3 separate regions of the Homo sapiens genome follow, and regions 2 and 3 are each linked to region 1. Evidence: fine-mapped expression QTL. A gene starts in region 1. Each other region holds a variant in brackets. All regions are shown on one strand. Distances are between the middles of the regions. Region 1 holds the start of TRIM3 (tripartite motif containing 3). Region 2 overlaps APBB1 (amyloid beta precursor protein binding family B member 1). Region 3 holds the start of HPX (hemopexin).

The links. PIP is the estimated chance that this variant, and not a neighbour inherited with it, causes the effect.
Region 2: its variant is fine-mapped to the expression of TRIM3 in whole blood (TOPMed, PIP above 0.99).
Region 3: its variant is fine-mapped to the expression of TRIM3 in aorta (GTEx, PIP above 0.99).

What each region holds. Positions count from the first base shown.
Region 1 is chr11:6,470,397-6,478,574 of GRCh38, forward strand. It overlaps TRIM3 (tripartite motif containing 3), which reads right to left and starts at 3,545. Exons shown (of 12, transcript NM_033278.4): 1 at 3,395-3,545. It overlaps ARFIP2 (ARF interacting protein 2), which reads right to left. Exons shown (of 8, transcript NM_001376558.2): 6 at 7,645-7,802; 7 at 7,322-7,496; 8 at 6,123-6,872. The coding sequence ends at 6,717. RefSeq lists enhancers at 2,206-3,145, 3,146-4,084 and a silencer at 3,442-3,671.
Region 2 is chr11:6,400,261-6,408,438 of GRCh38, forward strand. APBB1 (amyloid beta precursor protein binding family B member 1) reads right to left here. Exons shown (of 15, transcript NM_001164.5): 3 at 3,387-3,562; 4 at 3,228-3,284; 5 at 3,059-3,144; 6 at 2,885-2,948; 7 at 2,316-2,465; 8 at 1,822-1,949; 9 at 1,717-1,722; 10 at 1,314-1,428; 11 at 1,085-1,169; 12 at 729-812. Among named protein-coding and RNA genes, the nearest start is that of SMPD1, 14 kb to the left of the region's middle. RefSeq lists a silencer at 5,059-5,353. The variant A/G (reference allele first, on the strand shown) is at 3,880.
Region 3 is chr11:6,437,623-6,445,800 of GRCh38, forward strand. HPX (hemopexin) reads right to left here and starts at 3,365. Exons shown (of 10, transcript NM_000613.3): 1 at 3,259-3,365; 2 at 3,050-3,108; 3 at 2,845-2,916; 4 at 2,543-2,664; 5 at 734-887; 6 at 1-30. The coding sequence starts at 3,341. RefSeq lists an enhancer at 5,733-5,802. The variant TAA/T (reference allele first, on the strand shown) is at 4,402.

The DNA.
Region 1 (8,178 bases):
TTTCAGTTTTGTTTTTGTTTTTTAAGAGACAGGGTCTTACTCTGTTGTCCAGGCTGGAATGTGGTGTTATGATCATAGCTCACTGTAGCCTCAAACTCCTGGGCTCAACTAATCCTCCTGCCTTGGCCTGCCAAAGCGTGGGGGTTGCAGGCATGAGCCACAGCACCCAGCTAGAGTTCACTGTTTAATGTGATGAATCTGAGGTGCCTATGGGATGTAATTCAAGTGGAGAGGTCCAGTTGGCAGTTGGAAAGATACGCTGAAGCCTAAGAGAGAGGTCTGGCCTGGAGACATGAATGTGGATGTTGGTGCAGAGATGGTTCCTGAAGCCATGGGCGTGGATGACATTACCCTGAGAGGGTAAAGAGAGAAAGGAGGGTCTATCACCAAGTCCCAAGGAACCTCAATATTTAAGAGATAGGCCCAGGAAGCAGAGTCTGCAAAGAAGATTGAGAAGGCACAACCAGAGAAGCAAGAGAATCAGGAAACAGATGTCATGAATGCCAAGGGAGAAGAGAACTTCATGAACAAGGGAGTGAAATGCTGCAGAGGTCCCATTATTTAAGCCCCAAAGAGGCTTTCATTAACCTCAGAGCATGTGGTTTTCAGGGGATGGAGGACAGGAAGCCAGATGCAGGGAGTCAAGCAAGAAGCTGATTGTGAACAAATGAAGACAGCCAGTGCTGACTCCACTAGATCCTGGACATCTGCAAAGGATGTGTTTCAAGGCTTTTCAGTTTCTCCAAATTCTCAAATAGCATTAATTTTCCCCAGGACTTCCTCCTACAATCTCACAGGATTCCCAGTACACATGAGTTACACAGTTGTGAATGGAGGTAACCAAGGCATTGTTGAAAATGGATGCGAGAGGTCAGCTAGGCTCATTTGCTTGCTAAAATAACTCACGTCTACTCACTAGCTTCCAGGTTTATCTGATCATTTGAGACCTCAAAAAAATGACAAATGACTGCAGGTTACAGTCTTTGGGCTTTCTCTGAAACAAATGAAGCCTTGGATGAGGCAAAGTCCTTAAAGCCAATGAATCCTTTAAATAAGATTAGCAGGGAAGGAAAGCAATGAAATTCATGGCCATCTCCCCCAACATTGCCAGACTGAGTAAAGTGAATGAACCATTCAATCAAACTTCTCTGGGCACACTGTGGGCCAGGTCCTTCAGCTGTGAAATAGAGACACAAAGCTGAATCAGACACACTCCCTGTCTTTCACAAGTTTTTAGACTAATGTGAGAAACAGAAATGGAAACACGTAACTACAATGTGATAAGTACCATGATATTGACATGTTCAAATTGCTACAGCAGCAAACTGGAGGAAGTACCTAACTCTGAGGATGGTACAGAATAAAGAAGGCTTCCAGAGGAAGGGGTATTTGAGCTGGGTCTTGAGAGACAAATAGGACATTGATACGTACATTGGGAAAACAGTGAGTAAAGAAACAGAAACATGAGAAACTAAGAAATATGGAACAGATGGACAAGATTGCAAATCTCCAAAAGGCAGAGGTTATACATGATGCTTTTACATCCTAAAAGCATAAAAATAAATATGCTAAAAATAAATAAATCTAAATAAATAAATAAATAAAAGGCACCACCACTCACCCACCCACACAAGCGAGAACCCTGGTAGTCTTCTCAATTACACCTTTTCTTTCACCTTTCAGATACAAGCTATGACTACATCCTCAATTCTGCCTCTGAAATTTGGCTAGGTTTAAAAAGTTAGGAGATCTAGGATCTAGTCCTAATGCTGTAACTAACTCCACTAACACAAGGTGAAACTCTAGGTAAGTTCCAACCCCATTCCCTTATTTGTAAATTGGGAGAAGAGGGATGTTTTCTCAAAATCTGAGATTCCCAAGGTTCCCTCTCAAGCCAAGGGCTTCCACAGATTGTACCATGAGCCCATGATTAAATCCCATCTTGTACTACCTCGATGATTTGACTTCTAGTTTCCACTGTTAGGCTAAATGTGTTAGAGGATGGTCTTAGTTGCCTCCCCTCCACACTCCCCCTGCCCCCTCGCCCCCGTAAATAAATGTTTGCTGAGTTTTAAGTCACCTGTGACACTCTATGAACGCTCTCTATTCTAACCATATGGTTTTTCTGCTTTTCTGAACCTGGGCTATACTATCCCAACGATGGACTCTTTGCTCAAGTTCTCTCGGCAAGAATGCCATTGTCTCCTAAGTGGCTGTGGCAGTACCTGGCACACAGGAAGTACTCAGTATATGTTGGTTACAGGAGAGCTCTGTTTAAATCTCTGCAGTTCCCTTTCATCAGAGAGAGATGCAAAAGTAATGGCAGTAACAAGACAAGTGAATAAAGTCCCAAGAAGAGAGACCTCTGCTTAATATAAGGAAGCTTTTCCACAGCAGAAAGTAGCAAGTGCTCTGTCACTGGAGGCATACAAGCCCAAGGAGGCAGGGCTACTGTCAGGCCTGCAGCTCTGATTCCAATTCTGCAGCAAATCATCCCCTGCTTAGGGGATGAATGGGCACCAGTGAGCTAGACAGACTGGCCAAGGGAGACCTGTGATGTTTTCTGCACCTGCTGTGACCTCCCAGATGTGATCTTCCTGCTAGGGCCAGTCCTGAGTTTCTGTTGTCCACATCAGAGAACCCCCACACCAAGAACAAGCCCAGGGCCTGCCCTCAGTCGAACTGACCTCCCTGGGGTGCAGCCTGCCCCTCCAACCTGCAACCATCTGTCCCTGCAGGTTTGCAGCCCAGGATCTGAAGCCAATTGCAGAAGGGAGGAGGTCAGAACCAGGGAGGGGCCTGGGGTCCTCCAGGCAGGGCTCAGGCTACAGGAGAACCAGAGGGGTCCTTTCCTACAAAAAAACAGCCTCCACATGAGGCTTTCTGTCCACAGAGCAGTGCATGGGGAGGAAAGGGTGTCCTCCATCCTGACTGGTGGGCCTGTGGGTACCAGAGGATGGAAGGGGCGGGGGGTGGGGTAGGGTGGGGGTGGGGGAGCAAGGGGTGGAGGTGTCTGCACCAGGGAGAAAAGAGCCCTTCAGACAAGATGGGCCACAATATTCCAGAGTCCCACTCAGCACGCACCACCACCACCACCCTCGGCCGCAGCGTTCAGCACCCTCCGCCAACACACACAAGCTCCCAAACCCCGCGCTCCCCTAAGGAACCATCACCCATCCACCCGCGCCTCCCCGCCTCAAAACAGGGACCTCACGTGAGCAGCCACAGCCCGAAGAATCCCCCTGCTGCTCTCACGGACATGGACACGCCTCACGTGGGCAGAGAGAGGCACAGCTTTTGAAAATCATCTGTGCCCCCACCCACAGACGCTCCGACCCAGACCCGGGCTGACAGGAATACAAACGCACCCTTGGGGCCCGCCCGTCGCACTCACCGCGTTGGAACAGGATGCGAGGGCAAAGCTCGGACTGCGGCCACTCTGAAGGGCCCGCGGCGCTGCTACTGCTGCCAGCGCCCGTCCGCCCGGCCCTGCCCGCGCCTCCGCCTGTCCCCGCGCCGGCGCCGCCGCCGGACTAGCCGCACAGGCCGGAGGGAGGGGCCGGGGCGGGGCTGCGGACCGGCCGGGGGAGGGGGTGACTCCAGTAGGGAAGACCCACCCACGCCCCGCCCGCCGCCGCGGAGGCCCCGCCCACCCCGCCTGCCCACCCCTACCGCACCCGCACGCCCCCCCGCCAACGCCTCCACCTCCTGCGGACGCTGCCTCCTTGGTGCTGCTAGGGAGCCGGCGGGCCGGCGAGCCGGATCCCGGATCTCGGATCCCGGATCTCCGCCAGCTGCCTCCGGCTCCGGGAAGGGCGGTGTAGTCGGTCTCAGGGATTGAGATGAGACTCCGTCAAGAAAAGGCAGCTGGGGCAGCAGGGATTTCGGACTCTGGGAGCCTGTCTGGGCCGCCTGCCTCCTGGAGGCGCCCTTTCCGGCTTCCTTGGAGTGCTCCTATGGAATATGCTAGTCTATCGGCTGACCAGGAAGACGTAGAAACCGTCTGTACCTCAGCACGATCTCTGGGCGGCAGAAGGGCAGTACCCAGAACTCTGGGAGAAGGAGTTAAGGGGTAGAAAGGTGGGGGATTTGATTAGGCTTTGGGCGCTTCAGGAGCCCCCTCCTGAGGAAATTCTGGTTCAGACCATCCAGCGACTCCCTTCCTCACACCAAAGACACTGGACAATTCTCAGAATCATCGCCTTGTGCAAAAAGCAGCCCCAAGTGGAAAATAATTGTAACAGTTTACAGGGACTGAGTGGTTATTATGTGCCGACACAGAACTAGCCACTTTACATATATTATTTAATAGTCAGTAGGTAGCATCTTTTATTAGCCCAATTTTACAATGGGAAAAAATAGGGATCTTGCTCCCCAGACGTTAGCCCTCATCACTCAGCTAGAAAGTGGCAGAACCTGGAGTTGAGCCCTGTTTTTAGGCCCTACAACCAGCATTTGGAGACTCGGTACCTTTCATGTTGAAAAATCCCCAGTGGCCCATTAAGTGGCAGCTCATATAAGGACCACCTTCCCTGCCCCAAAAATCAAGCTCTAGTCAGATGATTGCAGGCTGATCAAAGCCCAGAAGACTGTCTGGGAGCTGCAGTATCCATGACAAAGGGCAAAGTCATGCCTGTGAGGATCCCTGCACTATGGGAATCTGCTGAGTGGGTCTTCCCCTTCCTCCAGCCTTCCAGAGGTGGGGAAAATCCTGAAAAATTCTGGTTTCCTTGGCCAAAGGGCATACAGGTGATGACACCTAGCCCTGACTAAACCAAAGTGCTGTTAGGGATCTTTCTTGTGACCTCTCCACAAGGTTCAGATTTAGGCTCAACACCTGGGTGCAGCAGGAGCTTTGGGAACCGCCTCAACCTCTTATCCACCTGAGTTCAGCACATAGCACAAGATGCTCCAGTGCTTGTGAAGGAAACCCAGACGGGGATCATGCTTGCAGTTTTGGGCTGGGGCTACTATGCTACCCAAGATGAGGGAACTGGAGTCTAGATGACACTATCTTAAGCCTCAGAGGACTACTTTTCTCAACTCTATACTTCTCCCATGCAGTCAAATTTCTGCTTAAAACACTTCTCAGCTCCTTCTCCAGAGGGCAAAAGTCCTTAACCAGCCTGCAGTCTTCATCTAGCCACTCCCTCTTCATTTTTCATTCCAAGCAATTCCTCCCAGTTCCTACTCAGAGCCTTCATTATATGCTAGCCTCTCTGCCTGGGATGCTCTTCCCTTTACCCTGCCTGTTTGTCATCTACTCACCCTTCAGGTCTCAGCTTTTTTTTTTTTTTTTTTGAGATGGAGTCCCGCTCTGTTGCCCAGGCTGGAGTGCAGTGGCGCAATCTTGGCTCCACTGCAAGCTCCGCCTCCCGGGTTCACACCATTCTCCTGCCTCAGCCTCCCGAGTAGCTGGGACTACAGGACTACAGGCGCCAGCCACCGTGCCGGGCTAATTTTCTTGCATTTTTAGTAGAGATGGGTTTTCACCGTGTTAGCCAGGATGGTCTTGATCTCCTGACCTGGTGATCCGCCCGCCTCGGCCTCCCAAAGTGCTGGGATTACAGGAGTGAGCCACCGCACCTGGCCAGGTCTCAGCTTTCAAACTGACATCCCCATTTCCACCCCAGTCCATGCCAGATGCCCCTCCTTTGTGCTCCCACAGCGCCCTCTGTACTTCTGTATCCTAATACTTATCACTGTTTTGTAGTTGCCTGGTTACTTCTTTCCCTCAGTAGGCCCTAAGCACTGTGGGCAGGGACCGTGTTTTATTCACTGATGTTTCCCCAGGGCCTAACGCAGTCCCTGGCAAATGAAAGCACTCAGTAAATATTTGCTGTATGAATGAATGCATGATGAAGGTCAGCAAACCCAACCCCCTCTGGATCTGGTGCTCTTAAGATCCATAGCTATCTTGGTGCTGGCTAAAGGACAAAGCTTTGGCTCCAACTGAGGCTGGGAGAGAAGACTGGGCCTTCAAACCATCTCTGAAACCTGTGACTTCAGCTGCCTGGCCCCAGCTCTTTTGACTTGATAGGGTTCTGGTGTTTGATTAGACTGAGCTTGTCTCCACCCAGGCCACCCTCCTAGAGTCCCCGACAAATTGACCTCGCTGGGCCTGCTTTTATGAAAGGTTTATTCCTAGTGCTAGATCCCAATCTTCTTGGGCTCTAAGCACAATTAAACTGGGTGGGTGGGTGAGGGTAGGCCTATTCAGATGCAAGGCCAGCAATGGGGCTCCCCATTATCCCCACCCCTTTGGTCCCAGTCCCCTTCTCTGCAATGGGCACGCATAGAGGAGAGACAAAGGGTATTAGACGCAACATCATTGGCCCAGGGGAGTCCGAGAAGAGCTGCCATTGGCTGACAGGGCATTTTCAGGCTCTGTCATTGGTCAGGGAGCACACCCCAGCCTGAAGAGTGATGCCATTGGCCAGGGAGTGGTTTTGTCATAGCCGTTGGCTGTGAAGTGGAAGGAAAAGATCTGGGAATGAAGCCCTGTGGCCAGGAAGATAGACAGGGCAGCAACTTCTGGGCCTCCAGGCCCTCTTCCCACCATAGCAATGTGGGCAAAACTGGTGTCAGGCCCCAGCCAGAAAAAGGAGCCCAAGCCAGAGGGCAAGTGACAAAGGATGTACCATGTCCAATCTCCCACACCCTGGGGCTGCCCTTCCCAATGTCTTTCTTGATAGCCAAGTTGGGCTGGGAGCAGCTCACTGCTCCTCTAGCCAGGAGGGTTTCTCAGCTCCTGGAGGCCGCAGCTTGATGTTGAACTGCTGCAGGGTCTGCTCCAGCTGTTTCTGGTTCCCAGCAAAGTAGGCGGACACAGCATTGTGGAAGAGCAGCAGCTGCTTGTGCATCACCTTGATCTGGGGGTCCAGCAGGGTCAGCTAAGGCTGGACTCAGGCGCCCTTCTTGAGGGTCTATGAGCCTGAGCCCAGGCACAGACCAGGGGCACAAGGACTCTGCTCTGATGGTGCTTTTGGGGTAGGGGCTGAACTCTACCCAGGGAGTCAAAGGAGAAGGGTCAGTATGATGGAAGAAACCTCACTGGATTTGTGGGCCTAGGGTTTTTGTACCCCAGCTCAGGGGGTGATTTTTCCCAGTTATGTTCCTGGGACCAGCAGCCAAATCCTCCAACAGGAAAGGGCCAGGAATTGGAGGGAGGGTGATCTGGAAAGGCCCAGGGGTTGAGGGGGTGAACACTCTACTCCCCAGCTAGGCTGCATTTCCTCATTCAATAATGGGGAGGGTCTGAGGGGAAGGTTAGTGTTACAGATGGAAAGGTGGGCTAGGGTCAAGGGGGTGGGGTTGGCACCTTGTTTTCTTCCAGGAACTTGAGCTTGATGGCCACATCTCCCCGCAGCTTCTCATACTTGTCCCGATGGGCCTGGAAAGTGGCCTGGGCACTCTCAAGTCGACCACGTGTCCCTGCATCCCGGGGGCCTAGACTCAGCTCCTCTAAGTCTGTTCGGTAGGCATCATATTCCAGCCTGGGGAGGGGGTGATAAAGGCTGGTCTCCACTCCTTTATCCTCAACACATACTCTCCTTTCCTTCCTGAATTCTTATGCCCCTAATGCCCAAATTTCCACCCATACCAGCCAACTCCCCAAACCCTAAGCCCTGCCAGTGCCCACACCTGGCAGCCTCATACTGTTTCACAGTCATGAGCGTGTCTTCCATGGTCTTGGTGACCAATGTGTTGATGCTAGAGACAAAGAAGTTCACGGCTCCTAGCAGCGTTTCCCCATTCTTGCATAGTAGTTTCTGTGTCTCTGCATTGTAGCCAAATTCCTCCTGAGGGCAGAAGGGAGGAACAGACCTTGAATAACACTCCCTACCTGACTGAAGCTGTAGAGCCCTTCATTCCCCTCCTCCCCGGGGAGGACACAGCCAGCAAAACTGGAACAACCAAGGACTGCCTCCAGCAAGGCTCTCTTAGCCGGAAAGTTAGTGGGATCACCCTGGGGATACCTGGGGTAGGAATGTGGGTGGTGGGCATTCTTGGGTAAGTTCACAAGACTGGAACAGTCTGAGAGCTAGTGTGGCAAGCAGGGGAGGGGCTCTGATTAGGCTGAGCACGAAGGCATTCTCCCCAGTGCAGAGAGGGGTTATTTGTGAGGCACCTAGTGTGCCCCCTCCCCCACCCCCTCCAACTTCTGGACCTCTGTAC
Region 2 (8,178 bases), 70 kb before region 1:
CCAGGCACAGTGGCTCACGCCTGTAATCCCGGCACTCTCAGAGGCCGAGGCAGGTGGATCACTTGAGGTCAGGAGTTCAAGACCAGCCCTGGCCAACACAGTGAAACCCCGTCTCCACTAAACATACAAAAATTAACCAGGCGTGGTGGCGGGAGCCTGTAATCCCAGCTATTCAGGAGGCTAAGGCAGGAGAATTGCTTGAACCCAGGAGGCGGAGGTTGCAGTGAGCTAAGATCACGCCACCGCACTCCAGCCTGGCGGACAGAGCGAGACTTGTCTTTAAAAAAAAAAAAAAAAAAATTCTTTGCAACAATGAAGTATGTGACAATTATGCTCACTGTTTCCTTCTCCAGATGCTCCCAGCCCACAGCTGGTGCTGTAACACTAAACCCAGCTACAGGCTGCTGTCTGGTGTCCTCCAGTCATCTAACATCAGCCTCCCAATCCCACCAAAGCTTTTCCATGGGATGAAGGAGTGGGGTCTCCCTTTGTGCCTGGTTCAGCACCACTCACGTGGCTGATGCTCAGCGAAGGCGTGCTGACTGCTGCTATAGGCAGGACAGGAAATAGAGCTAGGACAGAAGTATGGGGAGGTGGGATGCATTTTAAAGGGTAGGGAGACACCAAGCATGAGGAAGGTCTGGTAGAAGAAGTATTGGAAGGCAGAGGGTAGGGGCAGAGTTTTAGGATCAAGGTAGCAGCCCCTGGGTATAGAAGGACACACATACCAACAGGTTTAGCAACAGGTACATTCCCCAGGTAATAGACTTGGAACTTCTGGACCAACTCATTCTTAGGCGCTGGGAATTCCACTATGGGAAAGAAGAGAAGGTTGATCATGGTGGCAGACCTTGCTCACCCGCAGCCCCACCAGCAGGGCATAAGCTGGACACTTGCCCAGCCGAGGCCCTACTTTCATCTCGTCCCCTGCCTCCCTTTAACCGGAGTCCCTCCACGTATTGGAGTATTCAGTCTTCATGTGTTCATTTTTCTATCAGCGCTGTCCAGGAGCTCATGCCTTTCCTTGGGTCACCCACCTTTGCCAACAAAGCTGAGCTGGACCTGGAGGGGTTTTGACACTGACCTTGGAAAGGGACATCCACAAGTTTAGAGTGGTCCAGGGAGAGTCCATTTACCAAGCAGCGGGCATTACGCCGTTCGGCCATGATCTGAGGAAGGAAGGGAGGCGAGGAGCCAGGGAGAATCTATTAGAGCCTCATTGCCCTGGGGCCCCCCTACAGCACTCAGTGACCCCACCCACACCCTTGTAGAGCAAAGGTGGCAACTAGTCCAGGGAGTGGAGGGGGCCGTGCCTTAGAGCAGATCTCATGCAGGCTGGTGGCGATGTTCTTGGCAGGTGCCTCACAGCGAAACACGTGGCACTTGAGCATCTGGGTCAGCTTATCACGAGCTACGTAGGCAAAGTCCCTGTTGGGGAAGGGGCACCTCAGTGTCTCCCAGTACCATCCAGTGCTGAGCCTGGTCCCCACCCCACCCACGTCCTCCCTGCCCATCACAGCTCCTCCAGGGCTTCTGCCCACAGCTGGTCCCCCATAGGTGCTGCCTTCTTGGGGGGGAGGGGTAGACAGGCAAGCATGCTGAGGTGGAGGGTAATGGTGGAGCATAGCGGGTGGGAAGGGGCAGGGCAGAAGAGGGGAGCTTGGGTGCTTCCAGGCATCTGGTCCAGGTGTAGGAGGGGGAAAATAGGCATAGTACCTCTCTCTGGGTCCAGCAGCACAAGAGAGGCAAATAACAGAGTTAGAGAGGAGGACTCTGATGCTGGATGAACTCCCACCCTCGAATCCCAAGCCCTATTCCCACCTTCCACTGTCCCGCCCGACGCCCCACACGCGGATGCTGATGATGGGTTGGGCGTGCAGCAGTGCCTGGCTCTGTGGCTCCACTAGCTTTAGTGTCTCATCCTCCAGCTGCAGTAGCAGATCCTTTCCCTGCAGGACCAGAAGCAGGCACTCAGTGGGACTCCAGCCAGGATGGTGGCTGATCTCTGACCCCTGCAGCTCAGGGGATGTTAGCCACAGCTCTGGGGCCCCTGCTTTGGTGTCAGACCGCCCGCCCTGCAGGCCTCACTCTAGTGGAGGTCACGTGTCATCTCTCACATTGACTCCACCGTTGTTAGGCGACTATCTCCCAAGGTCCTGGCCTGGGGTCGCTCATCCATCCCACAGGGCTGCCACTTAGGATGGGCCAATATCCCCCTTCCCCAGCCTGCTTGTGGGCAGGTCAGACCTCCCATCTCTCATAATTCCCTTCACACTCTCACAGTACCACCCCCTACCCCCGGCTCAGGTCCTTACTTCCCCCCAGCCCCCAGACATGGGGTCATGCAGGTTGTTTTTGTGGTAAGAGAGCTGACGGATGCAATTGTTGACTGCCACACTGCTGCGTCCAGGGGCCAGCTCCTCCTCGGTCATCTCTACCCAGCCTAGGGAGCGCACGGCGAAACACTGCCAGACACAGAAGAGGGGCAGGAGGTAGAGGATCTGAGTCAAAACTGGAGAGTTCCTGACTACAGAGTGTGGCAGGAGGCAGGGTGTTCTGAACTAAGACGGAGAAGCTCCCCAAACAGGATGTGGTTAGGGAGAGGGGGATGTGGTTAGGGTGAGGGAGATGTCAGATGAGACCCCAGCTAGTACAAAAAAGCACCTGAACTAAGACTACAAGGGCCCCCAACCTGGCTGTTGGGCTGGTTGATTTAAAAACTGAAGTGCCTCCAGCTCAGACACAGGGCTCTGTGCTGAGACTGGAAGAACTCCTAACTCAGGACCTGGGGAACTGCGCTGAGACCCCTCAGAGCACAACATTAGGGGCTGTCTGACAAATAAGAGGGCCCCAGACTCAGAATGGGTGTCAGTCTTGAACAAACCTTGATCCCTGGGTTGGTATTCCGTGGGGGAAGCTTCTCCTCCTCTTGGGGCAACGGCTCTGGGCTGAAGGCAGATGGTAATACTTGGCACAGGGCTCCCATAAATGGAGCTGTCCCAAGGCCCCTTCCAGACAGATCCATCCCACTGCCAGCTCACTGCATCTGGCAGCTCACCTGAGGCTCTGAGCTGGGAAGGTCAACGTCCCCTCCTCAGGTTCCTTCAGTCCCAGCTCCATTGGGGCCTCATCACTGGGTTCATCCTTGGGAAGGGGATTGAGGAATCAGTATCAAAATGATGCCCCTCCTCCAGCTATCCCGTGGTAAAGCAGGTCCCCTTACCCACCTTCCAAAATTCTCCATCCTCAAAGCCTTCTCCATGAGCAAAACCTGTCCAGGTGAGCTAGGAGGAGGGATGGGAGTAGTGAGTGAGTGTCCTATCCTACTCCAGCAGCACACACTCCCTCCACCCCTGGCCCAAAATCAACAGGCCTGTGAGCCTCACCTGGGACTCCTCTTGGGGGCTGCTCCCCTGTGAGGGGGAGGCCCGGCCGGGGGGTTCCCACTGGGTGGTCCCTGTTGGGATGTGCCAGTAATAGGTCCCTGAGGTGTCCTGGACCCTCATCCATCCAGCCGGCAGGTCGGAATCCGTCTCGAAGGCGTTGGGGTTCCAGAAGGAATCTGCCAGGTGGGAGGCTTGGTGAGGGTCAGCCTACCCAAAGAGCAGACAGCTGGTGCCTATGCCCGGTCCCCTCTGAGACCCCATGGTTGAGAAGGGGTGGTGGAAGAGCTATACCACAACACAGTTCCTGCTTCTGCCTAGAGCCTATAGTCTGGAGTCACCACATGTGGGGCCACCAGTAGGGGACATGGCTCAGGTCTCCTCCTGGGCCCTGTTGGTGGCTAATGTGGCCACACTGTGGAAAGGAGGAAGGCAGGGAGGGAAGAAGGAAGGGAGCAATGAATGTTGGGTGACCCCAATTAACCTCCTTTCATAC[A/G]TATCTATTATCTCAGTTAACACGAAGGTGAACACTTTCTAGCTCCTGCACACGTACATGTATACACAGACACACAACACATACAAGCCCTACCACACACCTGTGCAGCCACAAACACCAGGGTATGCAACACAGAAAATGCCAGCACAGATGGCAGGTATCACACACAGGTGCACATGTATGTGCAGGGGCACACACACACAAACTTTAGCCATACACTTATGCAGACACCACAGAGGTGTGTGTGCATGCAGCTAAACATACGAGCCCCTGCCACACAGGTGTGCAGATACCACACCACAATGGCCCCAACACACGTGTGGGTACCACACACACAGGCGGACCCACACTCAGACACACGGCACACGTCAAACCCTGCCAAATGTGTGCAGACACCACAGACGCTCACTTCCTGACCCTTGCTGCACACAGATGCAAGCAAACATGTCATGCACATACACACATACCTCGCATCTGTGTCATACACCCTTGTCTGCCGGCAGAGCCACACCACTCCAACCCTGTAACCCGCTCATGCGTCCTCTAACTCTTCTCTCCCTGTCAGCCCCACCCCACATGAGGCCCAACCTCATGCTGCCCCTCACCTGCGCTGCTGTCCTGCAGGATAATGGCCAGGAAAAAGTCCTGGGAGAACATGGCGCTCATTCCCGGCCCCTCCTGCCTCCACCCTCCCTCCTCACAGCCCCTCCAGCCCAGCCAGCTGGGCTCACAGCCTGGTGCTGGGCTGCAGAGAAAAGCTCATCCCGCCCCCTTCTCACCAGGGCAGAGCGTCTGCCAGGCAAGATCCTCCCCCGCTTGGAGCTTGCTAGGGAGGGGCCAGGACCACCATGCTAGGGAATCTCCTTGGGGGGTGGGGAAGGGAGGAGAAAGGGAGGTTCATGAGACCCCAGCCCCTTCTGCTCACACCTCTTCTTCCTCGCCCTGGCTCCCCTCCCCCAATCCTGAATCTCCATCCCACCCTCCAGTGGTTACCTCAGTGCCTAAGCCAAGCCCAGTCTTAGGGATACCAGGAGACTCAGCCCCTAAGGAATACCCCAGCTGCCTGGGGCCCTGCAGAGCCTATAGCTGTCAGCATAAATAGGGTGTGGTTTCAAGGCCTTCAGGGATCCCGCCCCTGTCCAGGACCTGCACAGCAGTTTGAACCCAAGGGTGGGCTTTGAGGTCCTGAGCCCCAGCAAGCTTGAGGCTGGGCTTGGGGCTTCCCAGCACCACCCCCCACCCCTCACCTGCCAGGGCCCAGCTAGGCTGCAGCGTCTCCTCGGCAACCGCAGCACCAGGACCGGCTGGGAGCGCCCAGACTGCTGACGTGCTTCCCGTTACCAGGGAAACCAGGAATCCTGACTGGTCCAAGAGGCAGTACTAAGGGACAGGCAGTCCCAAGACCCTGCTGCTGGGCAACCAGACACAGCAGGGCTGGGAGTGGGCGTGGTTACGCCAAGGTGGCTGCACACCTGACGAGAGTTATTCAGGCAGGGTGCTTCACCATCCTCAGCTTCCAAATGACGTGGGCCCACAGACACCCAAAGAGGAGGGGCTCTTGCCCATCCACCTTCTAGGCAGCCATCACCGCCTCTCCTCACCCCCACTTCCCCCTAACTCACACTCTATGGAATAAGGTTTTCAATAGGCACCTGAAACTTAGCTGAGGCTCAGGGAATACCTGCTGTTCCCTAGAGACCCTCCATTGCCTCAGGACTCTCCTGCTAAAACCTTCCAGGAACAGCACCCTAGGGCCTCCATGCCCTCCACAGCCACAGCCTGCTTCATGAGGGCTGGCTGGACACTTCTGGAATCTGGGGACCAGTTCACCATCTCCTGACTGAGTCACACACACCAATCCATCTGCCATCCCTGTCAGCCTGTACCTTCCTGCTTCAAAGAGCTTCATCCTTCCGATCTGTCCTGGAAGGGCAGTTTCTCCCCCCTTGGCCATCTGGGAGGCCCTTCTGGAGCTTGGCACATCTCCCTCCAAGCGCAGCCCACCCCGGCCTTTGCTTTCACACACATGCATTTATTCCAGAACGCACACCTTCACTCCTGCATCGATTCATGCGACACTTACATATAAAATACATTAAATGTTCACGTATCATTCCTTCCTTCCTTCATTCGTTCATCCACAAATGCCTTAGTGGTGAAGCCAGGTGTACTCACTTGCTCAGGAATCAGTGATTGACTTAAAGCTTTCCCCTTCTCTCCACCCCACATAACTAACATAGCCCAGGCTACTAGCTTTTTTTTTTTTAACCTGCATCATTGCAAAAACATCATAACTGGTCTTTCTCTTCCTATCTGGTCTCCTCCAATCTCAGCTGCACAGTACAGCCCAAATGATTCTTCTGAGATGCTAAACTAATCAAGTAATTTTCCAACGGAATCCTCTTAATTGTTTTGTCACTGCCCTCAGGATAAAGTCCAAATTCCTCCCCAGGTTTTATGTGCTGTCATGAACCCCTGTCTGCCTCTCAGCCTTACCTCCAGCCACTCCCCTTCTCTCTCTTTGCTTGGGACATGCCCCCTTGTCCTCTCCCAGCCCACCTCCCTTACTCTCGATTTTCACCTGGCTATCACCTACCTCTCCTTCAGACATCAGTATACAGGTCCCTTCTTAAAACTGACCCATTGCCCTCTCCCCCACCACTCTCACAGGCAGGGTCAGGGGCCCCTCCTGTACTTCCCCAGCCCCAGAGAGCTCATCGCACTGATCATAACCACTTGTTTCTTTCTTTGTCTCCTCACCAGGCTGTGAAGGCCAGGAGGTAAGAACATCTTTGCCCCATAGTATACATTTCCAGCATTTACGATAAGGCCTGGAGCAGAGTATGAATTCAATACAGGTAGTAAAGTTTATTCATTCATCATTCATTTAATTCATGAATTCATGCATTTATGCATTCAATCCATAGCTCTATGAATATCCTACAATAGGAAGGAGAATATAATTTTTGCTCAATTCTAGCCTCATTTCTGCAGGAGCACAAACCTTCTCTGCAGCCCTCATGGTCATAGCAACACAGTTGTAAAAGAGTGACTTGGCCCCTTTCCTGGGCTGGCCCCCACCTCTATCCTCAATTCACAATGTCTCCACCAGTGCATGATCCTTGAGAATCCTCTTGCCACTCCAACATCCTTGCTGAGGTCACTGCCCAGCAAACCCGCCCCAGCTCTTCAGCAGTACTATCCCCCTACTCCTAGAAGCTTCATAGGTAGTTCAGAGTTGCAGCCCCCACAGTGACCATCCCAGGGGCAAGTGAGCAACTAGGCCTCTATTTGGTCACTGACTCACACCCCCTAGTCTTGCAAACTTCCAACCTACAACCTGCAGACTGATGCAAGCCTCAGATAGATTGTGTGTGGCCTGCACAGTGCTTTTTAAAAAATAGAATTTGTTGTTAACGTTTAGAAATTGGGCTATTTTACACCAATATCTAGTTTTCAGTTTCCCTTTAACTGGCTGCATTGAGACTATATTTTTCCTCACCCCAATCCCAAAAATAATCAGCTGGAGTGCAGGAGGGGCTGTTCCTTTTAAAAGGAGTTGAGACAATGACCACCAAAGGCCACTAACATCACAAAAAAGAGAGGCAATCAGACTTTGCCTTTAGTAGAAGTATTTTTTTTTTTTTTTTTGAGACGGAGTCTCGCTCTGTCGCCCGGGCCGGACTGCGGACTGCAGTGGCGCAATCTCGGCTCACTGCAAGCTCCGCTTCCCGGGTTCACGCCATTCTCCTGCCTCAGCCTCCCGAGTAGCTGGGACTACAGGCGCCCGCCACCGCGCCCGGCTAATTTTTTGTATTTTTAGTAGAGACGGGGTTTCACCTTGTTAGCCAGTATGGTCTCGATCTCCTGACCTCATGATCCACCCGCCTCGGCCTCCCAAAGTGCTGGGATTACAGGCGTGAGCCACCGCGCCCGGCCTAGTAGAAGTATTTAATACCACCTATGAAATATTCTTGCAAAAGCAAAACACAAAAATGCTCAAATCTGAATCTGATCAAGGCTCTAGAACTAACTACCAATTTACAGGAAATCCAGGGGAAGAGGAGCATGGTAAATATGACCACAGGAGAGAGTCTGAAAAATCCAAACCATAGAAAACTCAGGACAAGCAACATGATTCTCCAGTTAAAAAACAAAAGCAAAACTGCAAACAACAACAACGAAAAAAATAGAAGGGGAACTTGATCAAACATAACTTTAACAGATAGATCAGGCCAGACATGGTTGCTCACACCTGTAAGCCTAGTGCTTTGGGAAGCCAAGGTAGGAGGATTGTTT
Region 3 (8,178 bases), 33 kb before region 1:
TAGCCAAGTCCCAGAACCACTCGCGGTCACCTTTGTCCAATCAATCAACAGGCATTTGGTGAGACCGGGTTACGCCCTCCTTTGTGCTTTCTCTGGGTCCCAGGATGGGCCAGATAATGGTACTGACCACATGGAGCTCACAGCCATCAGAGAGATGGCTAAAGGAGGGTGATCATACACCAAAATTCAGCAGCAAAACACACAGGATCAGCTCAGCAAAGGCAGTGGGGAGAGTCTGGGAAAACTTCCCAGGGAAGATGATACTTAAAGTGAAATCTGAAGTAGGAATTAAAAGGCACACAAGGAGAGATGGAACCCCAGAGAGAGGAAAGATTCCAAAGCATGGAGCAAACTGAGTGTACAGAGAATAGCATAGGGTTTCTGGAGCTTAGTGTTAAGGTAAAAGTATAATAAAAGTCAAAGCTGAAGGGCCAATAGGGATTTGGCCATGGAGAGACTTGTATGTAAGACTAAAGAGGGTAGATTTGTCCTAAGGGTCATGGGGAACAATGAGGGACTATTCACACAGAATTACACACAGTTGCCTTCACCAGAATGACTTCCTCTCCTTCCCTCACGTGACCTCTAGACCATACGTGGCTTCTCTATTTCCCTTCCTTAAAAAGCCACATAGTGGCTCCACCACCACCATCACTACCACTATCACCATCACTACTGGCATCACTACCAACCCACCACTACTCCAGGTTCTTGGATTCCAGCCTGGACTGACCTTGGAAGAAGAGGACGCCTTCAGCTTGACATTCTCCACGGTGACATTCCACAGCTGCATCCAGTGGGGATGGGATTCCAGGAAATTCATCTTGGAGCAACTTTGGGTATCCTTTCTCCTTCTTTTCAGGAGGGTATACCCAGACTTTGTCCCCCTGCATTCAAAAGTACTCTCTTTTTGACTGTGCATCCCCAGATACTGCCACTCTGCATTTACACACATTTTTTATCTACTGTGCTTATACGATATCCTCCTGTGGCCCTACACATTCTCAGTCCATCTGTGGACAACAATGTGCTGTCCTTTTGCACATTACACACTCTCAGTTTGTGCAAATCCAGTCACTATTACTATAACACACATGCCTCTAGCTCTGTACCCAGACACTCCTGTGGCACATTTATCTGCAACACTATCAGTGTTGACAAACATATCCACAACTGTTCATCCTGCAATCACCCATACGTTATTTCTTCATTCATTTCTTCATTTATTTATTCATTCATTCATTCATCCAAGAAACAGTCACTGAATAACTACTATATGCCAGGCATTGTGAGAGGCACTGAGGATAACAAGACTCTGTCTTTCACTTCAGGAAGTTCACTGTACAAAAGCAGAAAGGACTCCTGCAATCCTAGCCATGCAACTACCAAGGTGTAGTGTAAAGAGTGCACTGAGAATATAGACAGAGTGCCTAAGTCTGCCTAGAGAAGTTGTGGAAGGTTTCACACCAAAGAGGAAGCATTGGGCCCAAGAGCTGAAAAATCAGCAGGAATTTTCCAGGTTGACAAGTGAGGAAAGGGTGTTACCAGCAGAGGGAGCAGCATGCAGAGCCCAAACATGAGGAAGCAGTGTGCTCCAACCTCATGTAGATTCGTATGGCTGGCACACAGTGAATGTGGCAGGGGAGGAGATAAACCTGAGAAGATAACCAAGGCCCAGATCATGAGACCCTGTGTGCACTTGGTTTGTAGTAATCAGGCACATTTTGGGGTCATTTACTGAAACAGGAAACACAGGAGGAAAGGTTGGTTTGTAAAGAAGATGCAAAGCTTAGTTTGGGGGATGCTGAATTTTAGGTGCCTGTAGAACATACAATTGGAAAGAGATGTCTGGAGCTCAGAAAGTAGATCTAGATCCAGTGTCCACAGCATAGATATTCCTCAGAGCCAAGGTGATGGTTGAGATCACTGAGGGAAGGTATATGGAAAGGCTAGGATGGATCCCCAAGGAACATTAGGGAACTGGTTGAGATAGAATGAGACATTTGAGAAGAGAGAGAAAAGAGGCAGGAGGGAAAACAAAGCCGACAGTCAGGACTTCCCCAACCACACAGCACCTTTGGCAAGGTAGGAAAAGGCACCCCTTCCTCTGAGCAGACACAGCCTGGGTCACATGGGACTTGGTGAGCACAGCAGACTGGATTTCATGCTCCACATGCTCTTCTAGCCAGGTGCCATTGTGTTGGGAACAACTTGCCTTGCCCTATGAAGAGGACTTGATACAGGGTCATGGAAGGCAAGGGAAGCAATTGCCAGAGAAAAAAAGGATGGCCAGCAGTGTGAGGTACAGCAGAGCGGTGTAGAACTAAGACTAGGACTGAAGAACAGCCACTGGATGGTGCACCTGCCAGGCCCACACGCATGCACACTCCCTTAGCCCAAGCTTTTACAGGAAAGGAGGGCACATGGGAAAGAAATCTGCTACCTATTGCTATGGGCTCCATGCCAAGGCCATTTGGGGGAAGGGTCCCCAGTGTCGATTCCAGCCCTTTCCAGCCTGGCCCTGATTTTGGCCCAGCAGTACCTTGATCAGAAAGACACTGTTGTGACCTTGACGGAATGCAGCATCCACAGGGCTGGGGAAATTCTTCCATCTCTCTGAGATTAACTCCCGGTCCCATTTGTGACTCTTCCACACAAACTCCCCTGAAAAAACCCACACTCACTGAGGGGCCCAGTGAGAAACCTTTGACCTACTGAGATAGCTTGAGAGAAGCTGTCAGTGATACCATCAGATAATTCCTAAGACCTCCCACAGACAGGGACACCCTTTGTGAAGGAGAGTAAGTCTAAGGTCCTAAACGCCCTAACCTCAGTCCCTCCTACCTTTAAAAAACAGCATGGTTCCATTGTCATCCAGGGTGGTAGCATCAAAGCTCCAGCCATCTGAGCAGCGTTCTGGGGTGGAGGTAGGGAGATGGCAAAGTAAAAAAAAAAAAAAAAAAAAAAAAAAAAAAAAAAAACCAGAAGGTGATAAAATGCAGAGACACAACCAGACAGATAAGACAGACTTAGGGAGTCAGGGCCTCACCAGTCACGTCTGGGTCTGGCTTGGTCTCGCCTTCAGCAACATTCCCATGGGCACTAGTCCTAGGGAGAACAAAATAGATATCTTGATCCATTGGGACCGATCCCTTTCCCATAGCCCCTGACCCCAAATTTGACCGAGGCCTAAAAACTGGCCCTACCTTACCCTAGCCCAGAACTCAATCCTTCGCTTCTAGTCCCAGCTTTACTCACGGAGGAAGAGGGGTGGCAATGGCCAGAGACCAGCATAGGCTCCACAACCCCAGTGCAACGGGTGCTCCCAGTACCCTAGCCATGCTGAGCTGCAGAGGCCACAGGACAGCTCTGGGTGACCAGTTGAACTCCCTATATAGAGTTGGCAGCAGCACCACCCCCACCTCCAACTCTACTGGGAATGTGCTGTCTCCCAGGACTAAGCCAATATTGGCTGATTACATCACTGCAAATAAGGTCAGGGTCTGGACAGAAATCTGAATCCAAGACTCCTTTTTCCCGGCAGCTGCCCCCCAACCCCCTTCAGCAATTTTCAAGCAGTAACTGGGCTACACTGCTGACGTCCAGCTGTGACTCTCACACTGGCAATGGGTCCAGGCATCCATAAGTCAGGGAAGTGAGTAGACTGAGGATCACCTTTTGTGATTGAGTTTATCTCCACAATGGGGGAGGTGAGAAAAGGAGGGAACTAATATTGCTGTGTACTGTGTCAAGCCCTGCTCTAAGGCAGCTAGAGACAGCAATACTTACTACTTTTAGTAACCACACACACAGATAAACTTACTTAGAAATACTCAGAGAACAGCTTTTTCCAAGCTTCATCAGGGGCCTTTCTGGGGCATGCCCAAGCCTCTTCAGCTTTACCCTTGGGCTAGTGAGTCTGGGGACAATAATGTCTCACTGTTGTCAAATGTCCAAGCCCCATGCCCAGCCTCTCGCCTTCCCTGACTGGCAAAGGGCTTTGCAAAAAGTGCCTGGAAGTGAAGGGTTGACAGTAATGAGGCAGAAACAGGAGGTGTCTCTCTTCCAGAGAGCACCACCACTACTAGTAATTAGTCTTTCTTGGTAGTTTCCACCTTGGGGGAAAAAGCTTTATTTAACCAACCCAGAACAAATAGAACTGTAACTGGAATTTCACAATATTTCTAGCTGACTCCTGCTTAAATGCTACCTTCTCAATGAAGCCTTTCTTGACCACCTTATCTAGCCATTTCAGACCCTTGCTTGTTTTATTTTACTTACTAAAACTTGAAATTCTTTCATCTGTCTACTTATCTGGTGATGGTTGTTGTTGCTTTGCTTTGTTTTGCCTGTCTTGTTTACCATTATATATCCCTGACTCCTAAAATAGTGCCTGGCATA[TAA/T]GAGTTGTTCCAGAAATATTTGTTGAATGAAAAAAATGCAAAAATGCATTTCAAGTACTGAGTAGTGTTGCTAGTGTTGCAGCCAAATTTCTGACAATTTCCCCCCCTCTAGGGTAGGAGAATATTAGGAATTGGGGGTAGGTTATGGTAGTAGGCATAATGAGATCTAGGAGTCACAGACGCCCTTTATCTGACAGTCCTGTTTCTCTCTCCAGTGTCTCGGCCCCACATCCATCTCTTCCTGGGATCTCACCTGCTATCCTCAGTACTTCCTGGGCCCACTCCCAAAGCTGCCCCATTTCTGTGTGAGATTTGCCTAGTGAGTCAGAAAAGAATTATGGGCAGACTCAGCTATGGGCCAGGATGAAGTTCCAGGACCCCTGCTCCCTAGCCAAGGCTGAAAGGGCCCTGATCCCTCACAGATGGCTCCAGACCCCTGACAGTCCCATATATAATCTTACCAAAAGTCTCAGATCCCTTTTCTACTCTGCGAAGTTTCCTTCCAACAGGAAAACACACATTCCGGAACCTCTGGAACAACATGTCACCAGGCCTCTGCCATCAGGCTCAATGTCCTCTCCTGACTTACGAATGAAAATGTGCTGTGAACATCATTCCCTCCTCATAGGTCAGTGGGCAAGGCTGGACTCTCTGAGTCCTTGGCAGCCTGGGCAATGCCATCGCTGCTACAGCCAATGTCTCATACTCACCTTCTCCCCATTGCAGGGCATGTCTTCTTTCTGGGTGTTGGGCAATGGGAGCCACTATTCTAAGACTCCCCCTCACCTTTTCTTTCCCTCTCAGCCTCTGAAACCTTATATTCTCCCTCCTGAGCACCCCATGATCCTCCATCAGGAATTTCCTCAACAACTTGTCTTCAGCTGTCAGAACCCTGTCTGAATCCTACAGATTTTGCTGGGCCTGCCTGGGGAGAGGGAAGCTTTCACCCCAAGAAACAAACACCCCACAGAAAACCCATAGTGAGAGTCTTCAATAGTCCTATTAGCAGGGCCTTGCACTGACTTGCCAGTCCAAGGGTGCAGTCTCCTTCTGGCCTAACAGGGCTGTCTGAGGGCATACAGCACATATACTGGATGATCATTTTTCAGCTTGACCCCTTCCCCACACACCTGGTGTGGTCCCCCTCACAGCACCCCGGATCCATCTATCCCAGAATACTACTTTATGGTCCCTTTTCCCTGTTGCTTCCTAATTCACCTGTGTACCCGAGAATGGCTTAGAAACCATTACTGGATCCTCCTGCTCCACCCAGGGACTAGGCCAGCAGAGTCATCTGCACTGCAGGCAGTCCAGGTTGAAGTTCAAGTTTTGGGCAGGAGTTGAAAGTAGAACATTGTACACATTTGGGAACCCAGGGCTGTGGATATGTTGGCCACCCTGGTGTTGGTCACAGGGTACAAGCCAAGACTTCTCAGGGTAGTCAAGACTCAGCAGCCTTGCTTCTCTTCCCCTCACTACAGGAGGCCCCTTCTGTGGGTCCTGGGTCCTTCCCAGGCTTCCTACTGGGGCTGAGGAAAGAAGCTTGTCGGTACTTGGGCCTGAGCACCCCCTGCAGGCCGCAGGAATCAGTGCACTCCCGCCCTTCAACTAGAGGCCAGAGCCCAGGAGTTTTTCCTCTCTGAAACTAGCTCTCCACAGCCTTTGTCCCACACTCCTCTCAGCCCTGGCTGTGCATCCTTAGTGGTACACACCCTTCTATGCTTCTTTCCCTTCTTCTGCAAACCTTGCTGCCCAGAGTGGATTTGGGGACCTCAATCTCTTGCTTCTCTGGGAACTCGAGCCCAGAGAAATTCAACCATCTCTTTTCCTGGGTAGTCTTCTCTATCCTCCTAACCAGCAGCTTTTTTACTTCTCCCAGAAGGGGTCTGAACACGAACCTGCAAATGTCTGCAAATGACAGAGCTTCCTCCTGCATTGCCAAGAGCCAGATGTAAGCTGGACACTGACCCACTGTCCCTTGGAATGGCTATGTCTATGTCCAGCCTGCTCTGCTGTTGATATGAGTTCTCTGACCTTAGCCATTTCTCCTGGGCCCACTGAGTGCTAGGTGTGCTGGGCCTGAAGTCTGTGGCTGTATACTCCAGGGAGCAGGAACTGAATGTCTCCTTTCCTCAGGGGTAGGAGGCTTAGGGATAAAGCTCCAGGCAGCCAAAGAGCTTGCTGATCCCAGCTGACCCCTCCTCTTGCTCAGTCTATAATGGGCCTTAGTGCTATATATATATATATATAGCATGTATATAGCACTTGCTATGGTTTGAATGTTTCTGTCCCCTCCGAATTGATGTGTTGGAAGCTTAATTCCCAATGTGCCAGTGTTTGGAGGTGCGGCCTCATGAGAGGTGTTTAGGTCATGAGAGCTCTGCCCGATGAATGGATTAATGCTGCTATAAAAAGGGCTTTCAGAAGTGGATTCTCTCTCCTCTGCTTTTCTGCCACGTGATGAACAGCATTTGTCTCCTCTAGAGGATGCAGCGTTCAAAATGCCATCATAGAAGCAGAGACCAGGACCTCACCACACACCAAACCTGCTGGGCACCTTAATCTTGGACTTCCCAGCCTCCAGAACTGTGAGAAATACATTTTTGTTCATTATAAATCATCAGTCATGGGCATTTTGTTATAGCAGCACAAACAGACAAAGGTAGCACTATGAGTCCCGTTTTATGAATGAGGAAGCCAATATTAGGTATCTTAGCCAAATCACATTGCTAGCAAGTGGCAGAGCCATGATTTAAACCCTGGGTGCCTGACTCCTAGGGGTGTGTTCCTACAAGGATAGTGTGTTCTTATCAAGGGGTTCGCTGGCAAATATTTAACAACTGCTCTCTAGGGGGAAAAAGCACTGATTTGTAACATTTGCAGATTTTTGTGATATAAATACTCCTACCATGGCCAACTTTAAGCTACCGACAAGACATCACCAAATGTAGAGTTGGGAAGGGATGTACAGTAACACACTGCATACAATATTCCTACCATACAGATATGATAGATATAAATAATCACAAGAGCACAGGGGATAGTAAAATGTAGTAAAATAATTAGGAAGTGATTACTTTTAAGTACTGATTATCTTTGGTTTTAATAGAATGTATTTAAGTTTATATAGTTTGATTTTTAATAATAGCTGTGTTTTAACAACCAGCTCTCAAAATTCTAAATTTGACAATCAGCTCTCATGAGCCAGCTCCAGCACCCCACAGTCTACCATGCTGCCTTTGTGTACAGGACAAGGATCCTACCTGCTTTAGTCACTGCTATATCTTCAGCACTGAGAACACGCCTGAAATACTGTATGTATTTAATAAATATTGAATCCTATTATTCCTACTTCCTAATTATACATAAAATCTGTCCATTTCTCTCTGCCTCTTTAGTAATGCAAACACCACCTTTTCTTGTGTGACCATTGAAATAGCTCCTCTACAACACATTCTTTATAACAACCACAGTGATCTTTAAAAACGTATCTGAGATCACCTTATGCTCCTGCTTAAAATTTTTTCTTGAAGTCAGTTGTAATTTTTTTTTTTTTTCTTTTTTTTTTGAGACAGAGTCTCACTCTGTCACCCAGGCTGGAGTGCAGTGGCGCGATCTCGGCTCACTGCAACCTCCGTCTCCTGGGTTCAAGTGATTCTCCTGCCTCAGCCTCTCGATTAGCTGGGACTACAGGCGCCTGCCACCACACCTGGCTCATTTTTTGCATTTTTAGTAGAAACAGGGTTTCACCGTGTTAGCCAGGATGGTCTTAATC